Linked DNA regions of Homo sapiens. The protein of the gene in region 1 interacts with the protein of each later gene in a biochemical or structural test. Each region holds a gene or a part of one and is shown on either strand. Other genes may lie near its edges.

Region 1 (3,500 bases):
TGAACCGGGGAGACGGAGGTTGCAGTGAGCTGAGATTGCACCACTGCACTCCAGCCTGGGTGACAGAGTGAGACTCCATCTCAAAAAAAACAAGTGGTCAAAATAAAATTTTCCTATCCTACACTTTAAATAAAATTTAAAACAAAGTATTTTCATGGTTATCTTAATGTCCTTTATTGCGATTTCATTATACAAAATGTATCGTGGAATAAATGGGTGTTCATGAAAATACATGCATTTATTGTAATGTGATTTATTCTGCTATCTTAGCTTGGTAATATGTTAAGCAGTCACCATGGAAAGTGGCGAAAGTTTCTGAGTATCCAGTAAACTTAAAATTTTTTAAAACAAAAAAAAAAAATTGGATTTCAAAATTTCTGCTGCTTGGCTCCTCTTTTTTTTGTTTAGATATGGTATTAAAGGTGGATATCCTAAACACAGTGTTTCCAAAGGAAGATGTATGTTATAGTTTTTGGTTTCCTACCCTGATTTAGCTTTTGTCTTGTTTATCAGGCACTGATACCTTTAGTTCTTCAAATAACCATGAGAAAATATCCTCTCCTAAAGTTGGTAGAATAACAAGGACTTCTAACAGAAGAAATGTAAGTGTTTGTGTTTGGCACAACGTATTTGTTTTTAAATCGTGCAATATACTTTTCTGTTTTCATGGCCAAATGATAATGGGTGAAATCTTAGTTTAATCAGTGTCATTAAGAATTAATACTTTGGCCAGGCACCGTGGTTCACGCCTGTAATCCCAATGCTTTGGGAGGCCGAGGCAGGCGGATCATGAGGTCAGGAGATTGAGACCATTCTGGCTAACACGGTAAAATCCCATCTCTACTAGAAATACCAAAAAAATTAGCCGGACGTGGTGGTGGACGCCTGTAGTCCCAGCTACTAGGGAGGCTGAGGCAGGAGAATGGCATGAACTCAGGAGGCGGAGCTTGCCGGGAGCCGAGATGGCGCCACTGCACTCCAGCCTGGGCGGAGTGAGACTCCGTCTCAAAAAAAAAACTAATACTTTATCCTACCTAGCATGTAACCTATAAGGTGATAGTGTGTTTCTGATTTGATTTTAATTCTATTAGAAGAAAAATCTAGAAAGATGCTTTCAGAGCTGTGTTAACATGGAAGTTAACAAAATTTGTTTGGGATCTATATGATTTTATGAATTTCGTTGAGGTGAAAATGGAGAAGATCAGCATGTAATTAACAGAACCAGAAAATAATATAAGTATAATCTTTTTTAAATTGTGCTTCAGTCTGTTTTTTAACACTGGGTTTCAACTGGGAGTTATATATAAGCATAACTCCCATTGAATGCATGTCTTTTGCTATTTCGTTAAATTAGATAAAATTTGGATTTTTGTTTATAACATCATAAAGTATAAACATATACTGTTATGGGGTATTTAGCTTATAGGGTTGGATATTAAACCCAGGATTCAAACCTAGATAATCTAAAAATTCATGATTTTTTTCCCCATAACCCAGTAGTTAGGTGCTAAATTGTAGGTTCTTAATGAGTAGTTGATGAGTGAATAAATTAACGAATTCTTAAGCTGTTTTTTCTTTCTTCCCTAATATAATTGGGTAATATATGTATACTTCTGGGTCTGCATTTGATAGTTCAGAAATTGGTAATTACCATTTCCACCAATTTTCATCAAAGTGCTTTTAATAAGGTTTGTGAATTAAGAATAAATGGGATCTAAAGTGGTAGAAGCATCCTGGGAAGCACAACAAGAGTGAGAGCAGCACATTAACATGTAATTGCTTGTGCTTTACGGTATCCTACTTTACACTTTCTTTATAGCAATTGGTCAGTGTTGTAGAAGAGAGTGTTTGCAACTTATTGAATACAGAAGTTCAGCCTTGTAAAGAAAAGAAAATTAATAGGAGGAAGTCTCAAGAAACAAAGTGTACAAAGAGAGCACTTCCTAAGAAGAGTCAGGTAAGCATGTGTTTAAAGATATAATAAAGAGTAGAAGTGGTGTGTTTCCTTATTGTATAATTAGGAAAATATAGAAACACATTTTTTTCCAGTTGACTTTGGACCAAGATTATTAATGCAATCTTACCGTGGAGTAGAATGGGGTGGGGGGGTTATGTACTTAACTCTGAATTGCCTAAGGAACACTTTTGCGTCTTCTTCATCTTCTTGTGTTGCGTACTTCCTGCACAGTAAATTAATAGGCACTCAAACCTGAAATTCTCATTCTCATCTTTGAATCTACCCCAACATATTACCCTATTGGGAATCCTGATTTTTTTAGGCAGGGATGAGTGTGCCGCTTGCTACTTCTTAGATTCTCTTCTTCCAGTTGCTGAATCAAATTTTTCCCTAAATTTAAGGGAAAGTTTAGAAACTAGCTCTCAGTCTTTCTTAACACTTCTGGTCGTCTCAGATACCCTTACAGTCCATGTGGTTAGCCAATTTAACACCTTAACCCAGTTCCTTTTCCTTCTCCAGCTCAGTGATCTGGACTCCACACTCCAAAGCCACCTACTCACTCTTGCTGCCATTCTTACAACTTGTTACTGCCCGTGTAGCAGTGCTCATTCTCTGACCCCCAACTTCCTGTCCATCCAGCCTATTCACTCTCTTACTCTGCAGTTCCTTCTGTACTGCTAAGCTTTCAGATACACCTGAAGTTCATGTTTCCCTCTTCATCCTGAACTGAGTGAACTGTTTCCAACTCTTGTCAGGAATCTCAATTCCGGATCCTTTTCCTTCCACCTCATCCATCCAGCAAAATTTCCAGTCTGACTGAGTTATCCTCTCTTCCATCTGACATAGCCCCTAGAGACACTCACACAGGAGTTGGGGATAGTACTACTACACATTCACTGACATCTGGCCTTCTTCTTCACCACTTTGCCGCTTCACTTCATTTTTAATACTAAAGCCAGTGCATACTTTTCAGTTCTGTTCTTAATGGACATCTTAGCATTTGACATGATGGAACACTCCTGTACAGTCTCTAAGGTTTGTTTTCTGTCCCCCATTGTTAAATGTTTGTGTTTTCCAGAATTCTCTTCTTTGCCCTTGTAAATTGTTTATCTTCTGGGTAATTTCATACACAGCATGGTTAATGACCATATATGAAGACCAGAACTTCCTGATCTGTAAATCTGTGTTCAACTACGTACTAGACATCTGTCTTTAACCATGCTATGTCAAAATCAGCATTTCTAAAACTAAACTTATCAACCTATACACCCACCCAAAACATTCCGTAAACTTCCTTCCCCCTCTATGAAATAAAAATGACTGCTTTTCTTGGTTGAGTAGCACAGATATCCTTAAGTCATTAAATCCGGAAGGAACTAGGTGTTTTCCTGCTTTAGTTCCTTTTTAGGTCACACACTCTTGATAAAATGATGAAAGATTATCTTGCTGAAAAAATACCATTAATTCAAAAATATACATACAACTTATTACATTAGAAATTGATTTCCTTCGTGTGTGTGTGTATATATATTTTAAAGCACTC
Region 2 (3,500 bases), on another chromosome or scaffold:
AGCAAAAGGCTACACCATACAGCCTAGGTGTGTAGTAGGCCATACCATCTAGGTTTAAGTACACCCTGTGACATTTAAATGATGAAGTTGCCTAATGACACATTTCTTAGAACGTATCCCCATCATTAAATGACATATAACTGTATTTGTAGTCTTCTATGATCTTCAGTAAAGTTTTATGCTTTTCTCCATATGTCTTAAGTATTTCTTGCAAATTTATTCTTTATGCACATTATAGTTGTTGTTGTGAAAAGTACCTTTTTATTATTCATCTGATTTTTACTGATGTTTTATAAAGGTATTGATTTTTATATATGTATTTTTTAATGTGGCCACATACTGAATTTTCCTACTCACTCTAGTAACTTGCAGGGTTTTTTTTTAAGTTTTAAGGGATATATAAATATACAGTTACACAAATAAGTGTAATTCTGGTATTCCTTTCCAACATTATTCATCACATTGTTATCTTACTGGATTGTCTCCAAAACAGTATCCTTCCCAATTTTAATTTGAATTAGTGTTCCACATTACTGGACCAGACAGACTATAAAGTAACCTAAAAAGCTGTCAAAGATCTATTTCCACAAAACCACCAGGCCTAGATGGTTTTACAGCCTGTCTCTAATAAATCATTATGTAGAATGATTGCTGGTGGTTTCTGATAAATTCTTTTAGTTCTAGCTTACTAAATTTTTTTATCAGAATATATAGTCAATTAAAAATGTCAAATGACTTGAAAATCTTTTAAAATGATCTGGGTTTTTTTTTTTTATTTCCCCTTTTAACCTATGAATGGAACCATCCTGGCATTTCTGGAATAAGTTACAATTAGGCATATAGCATTCTTCTATTGTGATTCAGTTTAATGCAAGTGTTTTCAACTTTGTTTATTTAAATAAATAGTCTCCACTTTGGGAGGCCGAGGCTGGTGGATCACAAGGTCAGGAGCTTAAGACCAGCCTGGCCAAGATGGTGAAACCTGTCTCTACTAAAAATACAAAAATTAGCTGGGTGTGGTGGTGGGCGCCTATAATCCCAGCTACTCGAGAGGCTGAGGCAGAGAATTGCTTGAACTTGGGAGGCCGAGGTTGCAGTGAGTCAAGATCACACCACTGCACTCCAACCTGGGCGACAAAGTGAGACTCCATCTCAAAATAAATAAATAAATAAAAATAGTCTCTTTTGTTTCATTGTATTCTGGTTATAAAGATTGTGCTAGCCATGAAATAGACTGAGAAGCTGTCCAGGGTTTTTTTTTGTGTTTCATAATGGTTTAAATAACAGGAATCATCTGTTCCTTAAGGTTTCTCCCTAAAATAACCTCCCTCTCTCACCCCACCAACTTATATTTTCCTTTATTTTCTTAGAAGTAGCACATACTATTAAATTGTTTTATTTATGTGTTTAATTGATCACTTGCATTGGTCTTCCTCCATTAGAACGTAAGCTCTGTGAAAACCAGAGACCTCATCTGTCTTGTACATCAGTGTGTCCCTAGCATCTAGAACAGTATCTGGTACATAATAGGCACCCAGTAAATGTTAGTTGAATTAATAAAATTCTAAAGCTGAGCAGAAAGTCTATTTATACACATATATTAAGCAATATTGATTTACTTCAGAATGAGTGTTGATATAATCACAGCTATGGAAAATACGCTGGGATTAACTAGCTTTGTTATTAAATTCATGCTAAACTTTTTCTTTTTCGCAGGTGATCAGAGGACTGCTGAAATTTTGGCCAAAAACCTGCAGTCAGAAAGAGGTGGGTTTTGTTCACTAAATGTAGTGCATTTTACTAGAACTTGTCAATCCCAGGGCTATAAACCATGCTTCTTTGGGCTGGCTGTATTGCTGTTGCTAAAGAGCGGGAGATGTACACAGACTTGGTAGAAGACCTGTGCTATAGTAAACTCTGCCATCCAGACATTTTTTTGCTTATTGTATACTATGCAGATTAACCTTCTCATTTGTATGGTTTCTATATTAGTTTCACATAATTTATCATGTTTCTTAAAATAAAATTTTTTTAACCTAGGTGATGTTTTTAGGAGAAATTGAAGAAATCTTAGATGTCATTGAACCAACACAGTTCAAAAAAATTGAAGAGCCACTTTTCAAGCAGATATCCAAGTGTGTATCCAGTTCTCATTTTCAGGTATGATGTTTTCAGTGAAGCCTTTACTTTACACTAGTATTTCTTTCCTATTTTAGTTTTGACATTTCTCTAAATGTCTTTTTTTAGGTTGCAGAAAGGGCATTGTACTTCTGGAATAACGAATATATTCTTAGTTTGATTGAGGAGAACATTGATAAAATTCTGCCAATTATGTTTGCCAGTTTGTACAAAATTTCCAAAGAACACTGGAATCCGTAAGTATCTTTTATATAGGTCGTATTTTTTTCTTTTTTTTTTTTTATATCTTTTTGTTATTGATTTCCTAACTCATACTTGAAACCTATTACAGATTTGGAAGTTACTCCAAGGTTAACATCAGTTGTATTCTATTCTGTATTTTATATACGTATACCTTTATCAAGTTATAAATGTGTGTGTTTGTTCAGTATGTGGTCTTAATGTCAATTTATTTTTAAAATTTTTTTAGAGACAGCCGGGCGCGGTGGCTCACGCCTGTAATCCCAGCACTTTGGGAGGCCGAGGCGGGCGGATCACAAGGTCAGGAGATTGAGACCATCCTGGCTAACACGGTGAAACCCCATCTCTACTAAAACTACAAAAAATTAGCCGGGCGTGGTGGCGGGCGCCTGTGGTCCCATCTACTCGGGAGGCTGAGGCAGGAGAATGGCATGAACCTGGGAGGCAGAGCTTGCAGTGAGCCAAGATTGTGCCACCGCACTCTAGCCTGGGCGACAGAGCAAGATTCCGTCTCCAAAAAAAAAAAAAAAGAGAGTCTTGCTCTGTTGCCCAGACTGGAGTGCAATGGTGCAATCATACCTCACCGTAGCCTCAAACTCCTGGGTTCACGCAATCCTCCTGCCTCAGCCTCCCGAGTAGCTACGACCACAGGTGTGCACCACCATACCCAGCGAATTTTTATTTTTATTTTTTTTGGACAGTTGAAGTCTCACTATATTGCCCAGGCTGGACTGAAACTCCTGGGCTCAAGTGATCATCTCACCTTGGCCTCCCAAAGTGCTGAGATTATAGGCATGTACCACTGTGCCCAGCCTTCATGTCAATTTAAAATTGCAAATCTCCCTGGAGGTTGTGGTCAAACCCTCTTGGGGAGACCAACTGAACATTTGCAGAGGATACACAAACTACTCCGTTAATGCAGAGTTGTGTTGGTCTACTCTCAGTGTATAGTCTCCCCTCTATAAATGGCACTGTCCCAGGGGAAAGCCGAAGTGCTAAGGGTAATATATTCTAACTTCTTTAACATCCTTATCCGGCTTTCTACTTTTCATAAGTTTTGGTAATTGGATCTTTTTCATCTTCTTTTAATGTTGTTACTCAGGATTTCAGACATGAGACTG

Evidence for each region.
Region 2: the proteins of CDCA2 (region 1) and PPP2R5A interact in a test that uses a peptide from one of them, tested with the Homo sapiens proteins (one large-scale study listed by BioGRID and IntAct).

Annotation. Positions count from the first base shown.
Region 1 is NC_000008.11:25,486,733-25,490,232, forward strand, and holds part of CDCA2 (cell division cycle-associated protein 2), read left to right. Parts: intron 1-513; coding exon 514-602; intron 603-1,819; coding exon 1,820-1,957; intron 1,958-3,500. UniProt on the Homo sapiens protein: Regulator of chromosome structure during mitosis required for condensin-depleted chromosomes to retain their compact architecture through anaphase.
Region 2 is NC_000001.11:212,354,910-212,358,409, forward strand, and holds part of PPP2R5A (serine/threonine-protein phosphatase 2A 56 kDa regulatory subunit alpha isoform), read left to right. Parts: intron 1-1,716; coding exon 1,717-1,767; intron 1,768-2,040; coding exon 2,041-2,160; intron 2,161-2,247; coding exon 2,248-2,375; intron 2,376-3,500. UniProt on the Homo sapiens protein: The B regulatory subunit might modulate substrate selectivity and catalytic activity, and might also direct the localization of the catalytic enzyme to a particular subcellular compartment.